2 separate regions of the Homo sapiens genome follow, and region 2 is linked to region 1. The links come from fine-mapping of genetic effects on gene expression. A gene starts in region 1. The other region holds a variant in brackets. All regions are shown on one strand. Distances are from middle to middle. Region 1 holds the start of SFMBT2 (Scm like with four mbt domains 2). Region 2 holds the start of SNORD129 (small nucleolar RNA, C/D box 129).

Evidence for each region. PIP is the estimated chance that this variant, and not a neighbour inherited with it, causes the effect.
Region 2: its variant is fine-mapped to the expression of SFMBT2 in whole blood (INTERVAL, PIP above 0.99).

What each region holds. Positions count from the first base shown.
Region 1 is chr10:7,406,348-7,415,706 of GRCh38, forward strand. SFMBT2 (Scm like with four mbt domains 2) reads right to left here and starts at 4,687. Exons shown (of 21, transcript NM_001387889.1): 1 at 4,514-4,687. RefSeq lists enhancers at 1,562-2,457, 2,505-2,584, 4,936-5,856, 5,857-6,776 and silencers at 2,005-2,344, 4,561-4,700.
Region 2 is chr10:7,185,015-7,194,527 of GRCh38, forward strand. It overlaps SFMBT2 (Scm like with four mbt domains 2), which reads right to left. Exons shown (of 21, transcript NM_001387889.1): 16 at 3,610-3,719. SNORD129 (small nucleolar RNA, C/D box 129) reads right to left here and starts at 1,770; the gene lies at 1,666-1,770. The variant G/A (reference allele first, on the strand shown) is at 4,408.

The DNA.
Region 1 (9,359 bases):
AGATCCCAAAAGTATCCTGTATCAATTACATAGAACCTCATTTTCTTACTGCTCAAAGCAATGCTTCCATCGCTCACTATTTCTTCTCAAATGTGGGAGTCCTTTGGGGGCAGTGGTTAAAAAAAAAAAAAAAAGCCACCTTAGCTAGAGTGGGCAGCAATGGAAAAATGGATAAGTGTTTAGTACTCCCAGGAAAGCTTTATGATGAAAACGAAACAGGGAAGAGTCAGGAACCTTTTCTGGCTTTTTAAAAGTCTTGACTTTTAAGTCAAGAATCGTGAAGCCAGTTATTTATAACAACCAATGTTAAAAAAAATAGTCTATAATGTCTGCAAGAACGCAGGAAGAGGAAAAACTCTGCGATGTATGACTTCCATCATTACTGAAACGCATCTCCAGCAGGACCTGCTGTTTGAGGTTCAGGATGGATGTATCCCAATGGGAAATGGGAAACAGTTCCCACCTCAGCAGGCCTCCACCGGCACTTCTACAGCAACACACATCAGAACAGAGTGGATGACCACTCTCTATTCCAGGATGGGGGCTGCGAGACCCCCGGCTCGGGGCAGTGTTCTGCACCGGCCCAAGAATGGGTCCTGCAAGCAGTAAACTCTTTGGTGGGGACCTAGAGGGTTGGCGGGGGGGGAGGGAAGTGGAGAAGTGCGTGGGTGTCTCCCACTCTCTTGCAGGCAGGCAGCTTGGTCCCAGCAAGAGCAAAGATAAGATCTGAGACGGTATTTATTTATGGAAGGGAGAAAGCAGAGTGTGTGCAAATTTAATGCTTAGTAGGGAAAAAGCAGGAGACCTCCTATCTCCAGGGCGGGCCTAGGGAACAATTCCTGCTGAGCAACAACGCCTCTCCCCTCCCCCACCCCACTTACCCGCTCAACTCCCTCCCCACCCCCAACAGCCTCCCCAGGAAACGAGGCCACATTTAAGCCTGTTTTCTCCTTTTCTCCGACCTGCTGGAACATGGGTTCTTTCCCTTGGTGTAGACACGCTAGTAGGTCTCCCAGTTCCCTTCTCTACGGTGCAAGAGTGGAGGGGGGATGGAGAGTGGTGGGCAGCGGCAACCGAGCCAGATCCAAGAGGGGTCGGCCTCGTCTAAATTGGTTTCCCACCAATGGCCTCGGATCAGCCGCGGCTGTGCTGCGGGAGCCCTCAGGACGCGGCTGGGGTTGGTGCGCGGGGCCCCGGAACCCCAAACCCGGCTCGGTTCGGCAAGGTTCAGGGAGACAAGGTAGAGAAGGCTGGGGTGAGCGAGAAGTCGGGCGGCCGATCGTCAGGGCCACGAGCCTCGCCTTGCCTTCTTGGAATCCCACCCAACTTTAAAGGCCCAAAGATCCTGAAAATTCCGAAAGCGAAACTGCGAGCTGGTCTCCAGAAGTTTGAGAACGGTCTCCCAGGCTTTCCAGCGTCGTCCCGGGATTCTCGGACACCACAAACGCCATCAACCACGAGCACCGGTGTCCGTGGCTATTGCCCCGAATGGTCCCCATCCGCGTCCCCGGGAACTCCCTCGGCTTTTCGCGCATCCAGGTCCCCAGCCCCAGCTACTGGTGCGCCCCGAGCCCCTAGGTGCCAGAGCGGTGGTCGGCCGGGCTCCTGCCCAGTCTCGGCTCCTCCCTCCTCCCCACCAGAAGGAAAAACTTGGGCCCTTCGAGAACCCTGTGGAATGTTCTTTGTAATCAACTGTACATCCGCTTCCACGGCACGGCCTCGTGCAAAATCGCGGGTTTCGGGGCCTTGGAGCAAATTGCGCTTGTCAGCGGCGACGTCAGGAGGACAAGGGGAGGGGTTCGCGGCTGAAACTGCAGCTTCGCAGCACAGAGCCATTTTAGGCTGCTCCCCACCTCGCGGGGCCCATGGGAAAGCCGGCCCCGGGAGGGCGCGCCCAAACGCAGGCTGGAGGAGCCACGGACGCGTCCTGGCCGGCGTGTCGCCATCGTTCAGCCTCGCTGCCCAGGTGGGAGGGGTCACCTGCCGCGGGGTCTCCAAGCCAGTGCCGCTTGCTCCCGGCCCCCACCCACTGACAGCACGGCGTCCGAGTGACCCTGTCTAGCCTCGTTCTGCGCTCCTGCAAACCACGTTGCTGCGCTAACTACAAACCTGGCCAACATGTCTTTGTAACCCTATCATTTAAAAACGCTTCCAGGCACCTGGCCGCTGCCAGATCAGGTTCGCGGGCCCGGAGGAGGTCCTCCCACCTGCCCCCGCCAGCCCCGGGGACCGTGCGCGGCCTCCGTGTGGCCCCCGCCCACGAGGTCCCTCGGGCAGGAACCGCCGCGCGACCTCTGTTCAGCGGCCGCGTCCTGGCCACGGGCGACCCCTGTCGGGAACCCTGTTCCCGGCTAAGCTGCGTTCCCGCATTCCGGTGGCTCTCACCCGAGCTCGCGTTTGCTGGCTTTCCCTCTGGCTCCTCTGCCTGACCCCGATTTTGTCTCCGAACTCCACTCCCAGATCCTCCCCGCCCTGGAACGCCGACCTTTCCCCCGCACTTCGCCGCCCACTCACATCCCCCGGCGACTGCCCGGCCTCCATGCCCGCCAAGACAAGAAGATGCCCCTCTCCGATGCGCCGAGAGGGTTCCTAAGCCGAGCAAGGGACAATTTCTTCCCCAAACGCTGTCCCCATCCCCCACCTTCCCTAGAGCGCGAAACCCAAAAGTAAGGAAGGCAACCCCTCGCCTCGACCCTACGTGCTTGTCTCCCAGAGCCGCGCGCTCCCGCCCTTCTGCCCCACCCCACCACCACCACCACCACTTTGGTCTTCTCCAAGCTTCGGTCCCGGTCCCCCACCTCCCACCCCAGAGCGGCGTGGAGGAAAGCAGGAGCCCACTATTAAGTGCAGCGCGCCCCCTGCACACACGAAATCCGGCTGGCGTCTGCAGCCCGATTGCACCCAATACCCGGGACAGTTAGTCCTTTTAATAAGCACCTCCTCGCCCCACCTACTCGGGGATCTACCCGCGCAGGATCCAGCACACACAAGGCGAGAGCTAGCTCGTCTCCTAGAAAGACAAAATAAATCACTCCCTCTGCCCTCATGTACTTTACACCACGTGTCCGCAGTTTGTCACGTCAAATCATGGCAGGGTCTGGTTCCAAGACGCACACACACATTCGGGGTGGTTCTCTTTGACACACACACCCAAAAAAACTGCGCACACGCAGGCCTGCACACTAATCCACAGGCACACACGACAGTTGCGTTTCGGTGCCCTGGTCCGGGCCAGGGGCACTTCTCCATCCCTTTCCCCCCTAGCAATGGACTTGACACACAGACTCTAACCACGGAAAAAAAAAACCGGACAGCCCATTCCTTCTTTTTTTCCCCACTTAATTCGCTAAAGCGCTTCCTGGGGTAGCCAAAGAGAGTCGAAACTAAGGGGTGGAAACTTCAGCTGGGTTTTTTCCCACCTCAAAACCTTTATTTTCAGTTTTTAAAAGCCACCTTAGCCCGCCATATTGAAACTGGCACGGTTTCTAAAGACTCCTTCCCCGCAGTTGTGGCGCTTCCAAGAAAACACGAGTACGGATCAGGCTCTGGATGAGTGTCCGGCCACCGAGAATCAGCCACTTCCCACCCTCCAGGATCCCCCAGCTCCCTCCAGCCCCTTCCCACCGCCCCTGGTCAAAATCAATAAATACATCTCGCAGTTCCTACAGTTGCATTTTGGCGGATTTCTGCAAAACATACACACACATACACATACCCACGCACGCATATTAAAAAATAAACTCCAGAACCAGCTCAAGTCAGCAATTTTGAAAGGGGGTCGAATAAGAGGAGACAACCGGAAAGCCCCTAAGTGACAGGATATTACTTTAAAGAGAAAATAATGAACAAAAAGACCATCCTCGCTGGAGCACGCTCCAAAACTACTACTGCCAATTTTATTTCAGTTGCTCAGGCAAATGTTTCCAAGGGAGCGATTCCGAATGTCTGCACGATTTTTACCCCCATGCCGGTCTCCGATTCCCCGTCCTCACCATCTTTTTCTCCCACCCAAACCAAAAGAAAGGGGAGACCCCAGCGCGGAGGAGACGCGGGAGCGCGGGGTAGGTAGCAGCGGCGGCTGCGTCGCTAAAATGAGTGCAGAAACGAGGAAGGTGGGCGGCGGGAGGGGACAGGCTGCGCCCGGGGAAGGAGGACACTTTGCAACTCCGGACGGACTCCCGCACGGCTCGGCTTTTCCGAGCCCGGAGACGCAGGCGAAGGGGACCCGGGAAGCAAAAATGACAACCTGGAGCGCACAGAGGAGTTTGAAGCTTCGCTCAAGTGCAGTCGCTTTCTTCTCCTGCCCTTCTCTTTCGCTCCCCTGCACCCTCCCCAGCCTTCCCCCACCCGCCACCTCCAACCCCAGCTCCCTCAGGCTTCCTTCCTTTTTTTTTTTTTCCTTTTTTTTCCTAGGCTGGAAAAAGCCCCTGACCAGCGCACTCAACCTGCGGGCCGAAGGGCTGCTCTCCGGCCAGCCTGGGCGCCGGGGACAGCAGCCGGCGCGGCGTCCTACCTGGTGAAGTTCGTCCTGCCCTCGGCGTGGACCCAGGCCCCGGTCGCCGCCCGGGAGGGCACCGGCCTCGCTCGCTTGCTCGCTCGCCCGCCCTTGCCCGCTCGCTCCCCGCCCGCCGCCTCCCTCGCGCGCCCGCTCCGGTCCTCCGGCTCCCACTACAGCTCATTCCAATATGGCATCCTCTCTGTGCGCATGCTCGGCGCTCTTTTTTTTTTTTTTTTTTTTTTTTTTTTAAGATTTTGTGTGTGTGTGTATGTGTGTGCGTGCGCGTGCAGCGAACTCCTTCAACGACCTTTTCCAGCGCTTGCAAAATTTCTTAAGCCAATTAGCCTGCGGGACGTGATCGGCTCCTTCCCCAGCCAGCTCCGCGCCATTCCCTGCGCCTAAGCAGGCGGGCACCCCCAGGACCCTGGGACCTTCCACGCCCACGCGGCCTCCTCCCCACCGCGCTCCCCTTCCTCCTTTTTGTGAGCTCCCTCCATACATGATCTGCAGAAAGTTCCCATCGCGGGCGTTTCCGCACACCCCTCCGCAAGGACAACTGGGCAAACTCCCGTTTCCCTGGCTGCGGTTCGTGAGCTGGGTTTCCAATGGCTCAGTCGACCGTGTGCACAAACTTGCGCTTTATCCGCCGGGGATCGCTGGGAGCGGAGATAAATTCAATCCCCAGGGCAATCTTGGCCCCGCCCGCCCCACCCCATCCTGTGCTTAAATAGAGCCTTTCTTGAAGCTGCGAACATTTCCAGGCCCCTTGGGCAGGGCTGGAGGGGCCGAGGAGAGCTATTCGAGGGAAAGGTGCCCCGAGGGGCAGGAAATTAAGTTGGGGCTGCCCGGGCGAGCTGCCAGGTAGCCGTGCTCGCCACGGCGTCTCATGGGGCACCTAGCTAGTGGCGGGCCTCATAGGGCGGGAAAAGAATCGTCGCTCACACCCCAGCAAAACGTGGCCCTCGACGGTCCGTTGGAGAGCCCCGGCGGCCGTGAGCCCCGGGCAGGGCTGGACGTCTGCGGAGCCCTCGGGCACTTTGTCCCGGGCGCCTGGGGAGGAACGCGGAGCTCCCAGGGCCTTAGGTGCAACGGCTGCGCAGAGCCCAAACGAAATGTCCCCAGTGCGGAAAAGCCGGTGACGCCCTGGTAGCAAGACCAAGAGCTTCCGAAGAACGCTGCGCCCTTAACTAGGGGGCCTCGCAGAGATGCCTGTGTGGGCCTGCATTGTATATTTCTGCGAAATAGCGAATGGACACGTTTGCTCAGGGTTTTTATGGTTGCCAAAGGGGGTAAAATTACCCAGTCCCCCAAATCTGTGTCCCATGAATCCCTCTCATAGTACCCCTCTCCAGGGGGCCAAGAGGTCCTCCAGGTCCCCGTGGGTTCGCAGCTCCACCCGCCCTTCCTCGCCCTGCATCCCTAAGGAGAGGTGTCCGCTCTGAAGGGCTAGGGGCCAGCCATGGAGTGAGGGGACCGGGGCTGACCACGCGCGGCACAGACAGAGGTCCTCAGGCGGGCCCTCTCCTGGACGGTGGGGCCGGAGCTGATCTAGAAGAAATACGGAGGGACGTGCCGAGAAGCCGCTCTCCTTCGCCGCGACCCTGGAGAGCGCCTCTCCACCCAAAGGATCTGCCGAGCTGAGAGATCCAGGGCGGGCGTCCGCAGCCGTGAGGCCCCCTGCGCCGCCAGTATGGGAAGATCCTGCCTCCTTACACCTTGGAGAACGCTGGGCGACGACTAAAGCGCCTTCCGCCGGCCTGTCACTCCATGTGACACAGGAGCCACGTGAGACCCAGAAGAGTCCAGCGACTCGCCGCGCGGCGCACTTTAAACTCTAGCCTGAGTCTGCGACCCCTCCAGCTCTCCAGTCCCCAGCTGTTGGGGACATCAAGCCGGAGCCCTGGGCTCTCTGCCCTGTGGGTCGCTGAAAGCAGAGACTCCTCAAACCAACCGAACCGGGCGCATTAACCCTCTCGCCTGCACCCCGCTGCCTCCCGGTTGAGCCCCGAGGCGGCTCCAGGTAGAACCTGCTGGACTGACTGCGGCGTCCAGAAATCTGGAGTGTGGGCTCCAGACACTCTCCACGGTTTGGCCCCGGGTCTCAACACCCAAGTCGCCTCTTCTGGCTCCTTCACCACACAGCGGGGCCTGTGGAAAGGGAGGGGCCGAGAGACCCGTCGGCGCACCACTGTCCTCGAGGGGTCCCCACCCTGTGCACTGCTGAAGCGCAGGGCGCGCCGCGGCAGGAATGGCCCCGAGTGCGGATCCCCTGCCCTGAGCCTCCCACTCTTGGCCCGCGCTGCGCCTACCCAGTGGCCCTGGCCCCGCAGGGCGACAGCGGCTGCTCCCTCCCATTTGCGTCCCAGACCGCGCGGCCTCGCTTAGCTCCCGGGAGCCGACAGGCGCTTGCCCTGGTGCCAGCGCAGGGCTTCCCGGGGGCTTGGGGTAGGGGTAGGGGTGCGGGGGGGAAGGGGAGAACGTAATTTCCTTCTGCAGGAGTCGTGGAGACGTGAGCTGCAACCAGCCACCGCGCTCTCTCCAGGCTTGTTTACCAGTTTTAGGTCATCATTGTGCACGAAACATTCTTTCATCCAAATAAAAGCAAATGCAGAAGAACACCTGATCCCAAACAGTGTATGACTGCGTTCATTATCTTACCTGGTTACTCCGAAGGAGTTGAATTTTTTTAATGTTTTGGGTACGTAGACCCCGTATAATTTTGCTCCTGGGTCCACAAAATGGTGATTTTGGGGGAGGGTTACCTATCGTGATTAAGAAATATAATCAGGAAGTCGCAGCACACAAAGGTGGCATTGTTATTGTAAAAAAAAACTCCTTCCCTCCTATTTTTGTGTTGCTTTTTGCACGTGACTTTTTGAAGATTCCTTGATTTTCTTTTCTGCAACCGACCTCCATTCTCTTTTATCCAAGGGCACCAATGAGGCAAATGAAAATTGGTTAGGAGATTCCCTGAGGCAATTCAAGTGGCCCCTTCATCCCACTTCAATACCTTTCCACTTTCATTTTTATTTCAGAACCAGACACTTTAGGGATATATACCCAGATGTAGGTTGCACCCTAAATCAATTAAAGGTAGGAAAAAATTCCACATAGTCAGCAAAGGATAACGCACTGACAAAAATTGTGACTGCTTTTTTAAAGTAAAGAAGGCTTATGCACTCCAGCTCAAACAGGGTCATGAAAATCTCATTATCAACACAAGATTTTTCTCTATACTGTTAATATTTACTAAAAATCTTGGCCAAAATAAGCCTTTGATCACACTAACTATAGATATTATTTCACTCCTAAACTTTGCTTAAGCCATGAATTTCATCACTCTACAGATCAAGTTATCCCTTCACAGGGACTTTGGAATTCTTTAACATAAATGGGGCTAATTGGTTAATTGTAAAATATTTAGATGCTATTCCATTTGTCTAATGATACAGCACAAATTAGAAATATAAAATAACAATTGAAAAGTTTTTGTCTCATTTTCCTTATATTCCTAAGCATTACATCACAAAAACTATTGCAGAGGAGTTGAAAAATTATATGTGTACTATTTATTCTCTTTATATTTAGGACATGTGATTACTTAAATCTTGTTGCATTAGTCGTACCCAAGAAAAATGTTCAATTTGTACATACCTAGTCCATGTTTAAGTTATCACTTCCCACTGGGAAAAGGAAATGAACCAAAGAAAATAGAAGATAAACCATTATGCTTTCTTAATATAGAGACTCCCTAATGAACCATTAGACATACTAGCCTAACAGGAAAGCAGAAGGAGGAGAAAAAGAGGCCAGAACCAAATATTTGAAGAATTTGTACAACCTTCTCTTTACTGGAGCCTTGAAACCAAAACTTGTTTTTTCTTAGGCTACATAAGATAGTATTTTTCCATCAGGATCCTAAGGTCACAAAGAGTAAATCTAAATACACTCTGTCTTTTATTTTTTCACCTTTTTTCCTTATCTTCTATCCCCAATTAAAGCACTTAATGGTTAATGTATTGGGAGTCCAGTGACCTCAGTCACTGCTTCATCGCTAATTATCTGTGTGACCTCTGTAAGTCCAGTGACCTCTCTGAGCCGTTCTTTCCTCTTGGGTAAAATGAGGGGATTGGACTAGGTGTTCTGTGAGGTCCTTTCAGACCTAAACAGTGCTAAGCAATCTACCCCACCTCAAAGCCATAAATTGCTTTATATGGTATTCTGCCAATTTGATATAGCAATCAAATTCTGAGGTCACAGAAGATAAAAAAGAATTAAGTAAAGGAATTTGTAGGGAAAGGGTATTAGGGCCTTCTTTGCCTCACTGCCCTTCAGTGAAGGTACCATTCAGGTCATATTTTTGCCTTCTTTTGATTATTATTGTGTTTTTGCATTTACTGTATGAGTTTTGTGTTGCCCATAAAAGTGTGGGGGCTCTGGTGAGTGTATCTATGACAGTCCTTCTGAGAAAAGCCTGGGGTTATTGAGATGGCTTGTGAAAATAACTAGAGTTCTCAGTGAGTGTAGTGATGTGTATTGGTTCAAAAAATATCACCACCTAAGAGAGCACCTTCTCATACATTTATAGAAATTTCAGAAACACACTATTGCGATTGACTCTTGTATAATTTGAAGGAATTTCAAGCTTCCTTGACAACAAGAGAAAAAAATAATAGGGTACAGGGCATATTTTTAAAAGTACATGAAGGCCGGGCGTGATGGCTCATACCTGTAATCTTAGCACTTTGGGAGGCCAAGGCAGGTGGATTGCCTGAGTTCAGGAGTTCGAGACCAGCCCAGGGAACACAGTGAAACCCCATCTCTACTAAAAATACAAAAAAAAAAAAAATTAGCCAGGTGT
Region 2 (9,513 bases), 220 kb before region 1:
TCAGCCTTAGGACACCCAAACTCCTCAGAAATTTCTTTCTTCCTTCTTGCCTTTAAGTAATGGGAACTCTGCAACACATGGGCATGTATGTTTATCCCAAGGAGACTACTGCTCCTCCAGAATGTCTTAAGCTGGCCTGTTTGAATCAGACACGCCACACCGTGATCCAGTGAATTTAGGTACACACATACACAGAAATGCAGTCTTCCCTTCAAATAGACTGGTTCATGGCTTTGCTTAACGCGAAGTTCACCTCGTGCGTTTTCAGGACAGCAAACTACATACACTTGCGCAAGGTAAACAAAATTAACAAATGAACAAACAAAACCTTTTCCGGTGAAGTCTCTCAGTTAGGGAATCCTTTTTTTACATAAATCACTTTATAGCCAAATGTTACCTGCGACAGTTCATAAGACAAATGCTTGCGTAAAAGGACAAAAATTAAAGTCAAATAAGTAAAAGCACACACAAAATTAACCACTGCTTATGAAAAAAAAGAAACCACAACATTTCCACAGAGCTGAGCATGACGCACCTAACAGTGAAGATCTGACTTTATCTCCTTCCCTCTGATAAGTGACAGTGAGCTCTAACTCACGTGAAATCCTACCAGGATATTTCCTCTTTAAATATTCTGAATAACTATAACACAGGACTAGAAGAATTATTAAGCTTCTGCCTGGCTTTTATAAAGATGATCACAAAAGCCATTCAAAGAAGAGTTAAGACAGTCTTTTTATTTTCCCTCAAGAAGATTCTGTAACATGCTGAAAAACATATTTAAATGTCTCTAGATGCAGAGAGGTGGAGGGCTTTTTTTTTCCTTACCCCTCTAAGATATAGCCTAATTCCTCCTCCTGTAATTCAAAACAATGCAGGTAAATTGAGCATATTTAAATTCATTGGCAAGAAAGAAATTTTCTCTTCCAGAACAGAAATGAACTACATGAGAAGCCATTTTTTTTCCCTGGCATAAAAGCTAGCAAATTTTTGCTTTTCAATACATGTTGAAGGTAATAATGATAGACTCCTCACAAGTTCAAATATTGCAATAATTTCTTTCTATAAAAGGTACGGTTGTTGGATAAATAGGGGAAAAATCACCCAGAGACAATTGTAGGTAACAGTGTAAGTTTTCGTTATATTTACAAGTCAAAACCTCTACAAAGACACCTTCATCCTCTCAAGTAAATGGGTCTTTACTCTTAGGAGGTGGAAAAAACAACCAGAAATCCTAGATGCCAAATGAGAGCAATCACACTGCCCTAGGGATAATCTCACATCCTCTCTTCCTGAAAACAGTCTTTATAATTGTGTACAACAGCTCCCATAATCAACCAAGAGGACTGAATGTCATATGTATATATGACATATATATACATACATATACACATACATACATACTATATATACACACACACACACACACACACACACACACACACATATATATATATATAAAAATATTTTATTTGTTGTAGAGACAGGGTCTTACTATGTTGTCCAGGCTGGTCTTGAATTCCTGGACTCAAGCGATTTGCTGCTTCAGCTTCCCAAAGTGCAGGGATTACAGTCATGAGCCACCACGCCTGGCCTGGACCAAATGTCTTGAATGTGAGTCTCTCCTCTTGTACGTTAATTTATTCATGACAGAAAACATGCCTTCCTTTCAGCTAAATGGGAAGATGCCAGCTCTCTCTCCTCCCATTTGCACCAAAGAAAATAGCAAAGTTGTCAAGATCTAAAAAGTTGTCATTTCACATCAGAAGGGAAGAGGTGACTCAACACACAGTATCAGAGCAGGAGAGCTCCCGCTGACTGTAAAGCTGTCATCATTAGCAGCTGCTTTGAGACGCTGCTATGATCTCGCACAGTTGAAACCCAGTTCAGACAGACATTTTCTCATTAGAAGTTGCTGTGTAAGAGTTTGCCATGGAACTTTTTGTCATATTTGATATAATAGGTAATATGCTGCCTTTACAATTCAGTAGAGCTGGGTTTCACCATGTCTGTTTTGATTGTATCAGGCTGGATTTAATAAAAAGCTCTGATCGACTTGGTAACATGAAAACTAGTGCAAACACTTGCAAAATGAACTTCCTCTCACTGTGGAGCGGGAGCGAGTTTCTGGCTTATTTAGAGGCAGGGAAGGTTTTAATGGGAGCTAAGATTTTTGTACTTTTATTATATCTGTGTCCATTAGGTGTACGTGGACTGTATTGAATTTTGCAGAAAAGTTTTAAAATAAGAAGGATTTCTCCATTATAAACACTTGCTTATGTTTTCTGCCCCCACTACTACTACAAACTTATAAGAAAATGTGCCACTACTGCTAATGATCTCTTTAAAGCAGAAAAATATGAAATATTAGAAAAACATGTTTTTCTCTGAGCTATAGGTGAAGCTCACTTAAATATTTCTTGAGAAAGAAGGAAATGATGAAATGTAGCAGCATCGTTAATTGGCCTGCCATTTTCTGCAAATAAACCCTCTTCTTATTTACATATATTCTCTTCCACTTTGGTGATTTGGCAGATTATGATTAGACCATAAATAAGTTTTACTGAATCTAAAACCCCAGAGCTGTTCAAAAATGACACCAGGAATGCTAAGTGGATTGCTGGCAATGAATGTTGAGTGTGGCACAATCTCTAAACATCTTCAGTCACAGTACTAGTATAAGTTAACTATAGAGGAAAATATTACCGATCATACAAATTATTTCATATTTCTCAATTTTCACTATGAATAGGGCAGGTGCCTTCTCTAAAGGAGGCTTAGATATCCTCTAGCCACTGAAAACTGTTTTACTCTTTTAAAAAAACATCATTTCTCAAATGTTACATCTCAATGACCATTAAGAAGTCAACTAGTAAAACCTATTCTATTTGAAACCCATAGATGAATATTAAAAGTCCTCTCAAGCACTCTAAACAATTATTCAACATAAAATTATCTTAGAAACGGATCTTTTTCTATGTGCCTAAACAACCAAGTTCAAGTACATTGATACGGCTCCTGCTCTCAATTTCAGAGGTCAAGAAACCTAAAGAAAGCAAAAATGTCACCTTTCCAATTAGCCTATTTCCAAATAAAAGAAAGTTACTTGACTCCACGCCAACCCAGATTTTGCTGCCATTTACTTAACCCAGACCAAACATGCACGGGTTCCTTTTATCTTTGAGAACTGTCAACTGCCAGAAAAGAGAGCATTTGCATTTAGCATAGTCTATATAATATCAAAAATGAAGAGCTGTTTATGAACATAGTATAATAATGATGAGGGATATCCTCTTTACAATTTTCCCCCTTTTGCTCAAATAACCTATTGGTCCTGAAACATACCAAGTTTTTATGATGCTGAATGTTTAGCATAATAAAATATTAGTTAAGGAAATCTCTACTTCACCTTAGGAATCCTAAGGCTTAAGGCAACGCTGTATGGCAAAAATGCCAAGAAATTTACGTGTCGCCCATAGAACTGCAGAACGAACGTCCTTCAGTTTGTTCCATTTCTCAGGGCTGTGTCACAAAGAGAAGTGGCAAGGTTCAAAGTAGCATGGGGAAGTATTACAAAAACCCTTGCTTTCCAGAATTGAAAACACTTACTTGGCCTTCAGCGTCTCTTCCTGGAAATTCCAGTGGGGATCTTCTACCAGCTGTAATTCTCTTAATACCCTTCCAGGCTTGTAGGCTGCGTTGATTATCATGCTAAGAACCTTTTGGGGAAAAAAATAAGCAGACTGAGCTGCAATTGCATTCATTCCTACTAACACAAGGATGCTTTGAAAACCACACCACTGACATTTAGGAACAGCTCGCCACTACACCCACATGAAGTGAAGAAACGTGATTAAGTCTGATAGAACACTTGCCAGGCTAACACTGAGTTGTTTCACCATCCATGGACAAAAAGCGTGGTAAAATACAATCTCTCTGGCTAGAAAAGTGTGAACCACTCTCTAGAGGGGGTGGCAGACTCCCATTAACTCTTCTAGTTGCAGAAAAGCTGAACCATTTTCACCAAAGAGCAATTTATTGTACTTCAACAGGATTACTCTTCAGTTGGATAGGCTACTGAGAATTTCATTCTATTTTTACAGATTTCATAAGGAACTAATGAAACGGAGACAATCTACTCATGCCAACACTTCTGGAGAGGCTTCACATGCTTGCAAGGAGGGTAACAAATTGTGTGAAACTCTCCTCTTGCAGGCTCAATTCATGGACATTTAATACTAGGGCAACCCTCTGAAATGTGAATATTTTAAAAGAGAGTCTGGAATATCCAGCGCCATCCAGTATCATATTTCCCCCATCCACCCCTCACTCCCAAGTCCAAGAAAACAAGCATGTGTCTACCATGGGGCTCAGAAAGAGCAGGCATTTCTAAGAGTTCCAGCTGCT[G/A]ACCCTGGGGAGATACGATGTTCCTGTTAACCTCAATGAGTTTCTCTAATGAAAGGGACAAGGACCTCAGACCCCTAAGGTGCTCACCTTTCAAAAAGCAAATCATCATTAATGATTAACATTGATGAGTTCTGGCACATTCCTGGGCTGCTGCTGTTTGGATAAAGACCTTACAGAACGTGAGAGTGCAAAGCAGAGGCCTATGGTGTGGAGTTTCATGAAATGATCCTCTGTGAAGCTCCACTGAGTGACAGTAGCAGGAACAAGACGGGGGAGCACGCAGTGCCCATGCCTCCTGCAGGCCGTCCGGGTGCGGAAGTTGGAAGGAGCACGCCAGGCATGGAGCTCACATTTTGGATTTCAGAGCAAAATACCGTTGGGAGAGCAAGAGATACACCTGAGTGAGATGGGAGTCTGGCACTAGTGCCTAAACACGCACTATCTTTTAATGGAGACTATTACAAAATAAATGGAAGGAGATGGGAGAATGTGGATGGAATTTGCTTGTCACAATTTTCACGGGTCTGTTGTGTTCTGGAACGTAACCAGCTTGGTTTGCACCCTGATTTATTTGAAAACAACAAAGCTTTCTCAAGTTGTAACTAAGGATTCACTCTTAAAATACTTTACACTACGCGGTCAGCCCGGCGACGGCCTTTTCTCTGCCTGGGTAACATCTTGCTATGTTCCAAGGGCCTCAAAGCCACCCACCAAGAGAATGTGGCTTGCCAAGGTGCTAAAAAGCCATGACAAGGCGGTACCGGCAGTTTTGTTGCGTTTGTGTTTTCTGTATTAGAATAATCATCTGATTTTATTGTTTACTGTCAGTACAATTTACAGAAACTCAGTTTAAAAATAAATCTAATTAGTACTGACTGCAATAACGCACACAGTGTTTATCAACAGACAATAAAATTTCAACAGATTCTTTTCATTGGGTTTCGCTGAGAAAACCCCAGAGCTGCATGTTATTTGCTGCATATCGAGATGCATTTTGTGACTGCGAAAAGAAAATGCCTTCTGGAGTTCAATTCAGCCTGGGAGCAGGCAGCAATTAAATTATGAAAAGCATCGGATATTGAATGTTTTTCCCTTGGCTTTTCTTGATGCCACATCATCCGTCTCCAAATTCAACAAGCTCTCTATAAAACTTTGGAATTGTGAGCTGAATAATTTCTGTGCACATGACAATGTCATGTATTATAGTTACCTAATGAAAATAACTAAGTGGACAGCTGCTATGACTAGCCACAGTTAGACTGAATTATTGTGCTTTGCAAAACACTGGAGTTCAGTTCATTATGTGCTTGATCAGAGAGGGTAGCAGGGAGCCTGCCCCTGCCCCCAAACTAATAGGACCTTAGGTGTCTCATCTTCCTCCACTGATATGGTTTGGCTGTGACCCCACCCAAATCTCACCTTGAATTGTAGCTCCCATAATTCCCATGTGTTGTGGGAGGAACCTTGTGGGAGGTAATTGAATTGTAGGGGTGGTTTCCCCCATAATGTTCTCGTGGTAGTGAATAAGTCTCATGAGATCTGATGGTTTTATAAGGAGTTCCCCTTTTTGCTTGGCTCCCATTCTCTCGTCTGCTGCCATGTAAGACGTGCCTTTTGCCGTCTGCCATGATTGTGAGGCCTCCCCAGCCATGTGGATCTGTGAGTCCCTTAAACCTCTTTTCCTTTATAAATTGCCCAGTCTCAGGTATGTCTTGATCACCAATGTGAAAACGAACTAACACATTCCCCCACCTCATTTCTCAGCTCTTTTACAGTAAAATCCTTAAGAAGAGTCTACACTCAACAGCGCCTTTTCCTCTTCTTCAGTCCTCTCTGGAACCCAATCCAATGGGGCTTTTCTGTGTCCACAATGTCCCTGAAACTGTCTTATCCAGATGCCTGGTGAGAGCACATGGCCGAAACGCTGGGCAGCTCTGGGTCTATTCTCACCCTGCCGGCAGGGGCTTCCCTGTCTTCCACCTCACGCTCTGAGAGCCTCACCTCCCAACAACCGCCAGGGCGATCCTTTCAACAGGTCAGATCAGGCCTTTCCTCTGCTCTGTTCTTCTCTTAGGATTGTTCTTCCTGGGGAAACCCTTCCAGACCATCCCTCCCCATCCGGGTCTTTACTCCAAAGTCCGTATCAGAAAGGTCTCTGCGAGTATCCTCTGTACACAGCACATTCCTCCCTTCATTCTCTGGCCTCTCATGGATAACTTGTCTTATTATTAGTATAGGATTATTCCGTAATTGGCTTATTTGTTCACCATCCACCCCCACTAAGACATAAGCAGCAGGAAATCAGGGACTTCATTCTGTTTGCTGCTGTATCCATGGCAGATACAACCATAACTGGCAAGAGTAGGTGCTCTATAGATATTTTTTGAATTAGTTCAATAATTTCAATATGGGCTCTGAAATTAAATTATTCTGTTCATCTAAAAATTAACAATAAATTCACTCCAAGTATTTGATGCCATATAATCTACATGAATGGAGGCTCAGGAGTTATCATTTGCTATTGCTTTTCATTGCTACAAAATCTTATCCTATGCTATGATAAGAAAGTTCATCAAATTTATCTTGTCTTCTCTATGAGAAAATAATAAAGAAAAGCCTGACATGCAAAAAAAAAAATGTGCACTTTTCCTTTGCCAACCTTCCCTCAGCACCCCAGACCATGTGAGTGTGTTCAAGTTCACACCCACCCGTAAGCCTGGCACATTATTCTTAGTGGGTTAACTAATGTTCAGCATAAATTGAAAACAGCAGCAACAAAAACACAGCACAGTATCTTCAAGAGGCCTGTCTGCATCTGTCTTTGATTCCGAGGACTGACTTCGCTGAGGTCAGCTGGGTAAGACATTCCCTCTGTCCAATATCACATGGAAAAGTCCTCAATACGAGATCGTCATTCCTACTCCCTCAACACCTCCTCCCCTGGGTGTTACCGATAAACTTACGACTGCTTCGAAGAATGAAAGCTCTTCTCCTACCACCAAGTCTATGAACACTGAAGGCTGCTTGGGGCAGCCGACTTTCAGGATTCCGACCAGAAAGCTTTCTAGTTTTTAGGTACATGTTGTTGTGAGTGATAGCCCAGGACAAATGCTCAGAGCTCCACAATGAAGGGGAAATTCAAACAGCACATGACAGACTCCCCAGATGTGAGAACCAGACACCCCAAACAAAAACACGGAGGGAAATCGCTTAATGCATCAGCCACAGGGGCAGAAATCGAAACCGTAAATAACAGCTGAGGCCAAATCCCAAACCGCCAGGTCCCACTGGAAAGATCCCAAACTGCAGGTGACCAGGAGCCAGAGTCACCTGAGCCCTTTGGGGGTCGGAGGTCACATCACTATTTGCAGTGGGGCGTCTCTGACTCAGGGCCGGGGGTCCGGGGCACACCGCATTCTGGTTCAGGGGTGCCGCACTACTTCTTTGATTCTGCTGGTCTACGCCTTCACACCCAGTCTTTGGACCTCAGCTGAGTGCCCTGGTCTCACCAGCATCTCAGCAAACGGGGTGGAGAGTTACACTGGAGCAAAAAAACAAGCCCTGAGAAGCGCCTCATTGCAAAGCATCCTGGGTGCCAGGCTTCCTGGGGCTTTCTCTGAACTCTTAAGCACCAAAAGAAGAAAAAAGAGAGCAGAAAATCAGGCGTTCTATTTCTACCTTTCTATAGAAGGTTACAGCTCATCGATTTCCTTTCTATAAACGTTCCTCTCTTAAGCTCCTGAACCTGGACTGCCAAAAAGCAGCACACAGGACAGGCCAGGTCTGCTGCCGAGCAAACACAAGTGGAGAGCCCCTGCCTGCTCAGCACCCCTGAAGCTCATGCGGAAAACCCACAAAGGGGTGCCCACAGATGGCCCACATGAAAGGCATGTTTCTCTTTTTTTCTGAAAAACAGAAGTTAGATACTGTCACTGACATTTACATACTGATATTTTAAGCCAAATAAATTCTAAGAAAAACCACAAGGCTCCCCAAGTCTCTGAGAGCCACCCTGGGATTTTCTCCAAGGACAATGTCCCCCCACCATGATGTGTGGAGTCCCTGTGAAGGCAGAGGCTCCATCGCCCTACCCAGGTGCGTGTTTTCAGAGTCGTTTCTGCCAGGAGCGCTTGGCTGGTCTGCTCTCACCTTCATCATGGGTCTGTGTCTGCAGCTGAAACAGTCACTCCAGGACCCACGGACAGGAGTAAATAGATTAGATGTTCCGCTCCCCGTTGGCCTCTTGTGCCCAGGCTGGCTCACTGGTTTGCTTTCTCTTTCACACACAGACACTAGCCTGATACACTGTCTATAAAGTGAGGACTACAGGCCTGGTGATTCATGAGATGGTATGTAAGTTACAAGGCAAAAATTTCCTGAACACCTCGTGCAATGCAAAGGAACGCAACAGCCGACAAGACCCTTTTGGTCATAGGAGGCGAGCAATCTCCTGATATGACATAGATCATGGTTTATCTCTCTTTTGGGGACCCTGGTACTCCGGGAGAGGTTGGGGTAGAAGGATTTGGGATAGAAAAAGATGCTCCCAATGGACAATGACCCTACTGAGCATGGACACGTGACTTAGGATAAACAGCATCACCACTGCCTGTGCCTAACAACTCCACCCTCCATGCAACTGGGCATGGGCATCCTGTAAAAGGCCCAGCATGTGAGGGGCGGTCACCAGCTGGGCCTGTGCCTCCACGCCAAGGCCTGCTTCGTTCTGAGTTTGCTTATGGGGTACGTCTGGACCTCAGTGGACCATTGAGTGACTCTGGTTCCAGCTTCTCCCAGGTCCCCTACCTCCCCTCGCTGCACCCCCTCGAATTGAGGCCAGACACGCTCGTGGTCCTGCCAAACCCCACTCAACTCTAACACCCATCAAGTGAGTAGAGCCATGCATTAAAGACCACTTTTGCCAGAAACTTCGTCCTCTCTTATAAAGCGGCCCACTCAGACAGAACCCAGAACTGGACTCTGCAGCCTGCACTGAGCCTTGCCAAAGACCATGTCTGCATCCACACCCCGAGACGTCTATTTCTGGCAGAACAGATCAGGGTGAACCGCTCTCACTGCACATCTCCTACACATAAAGTGTTCAAG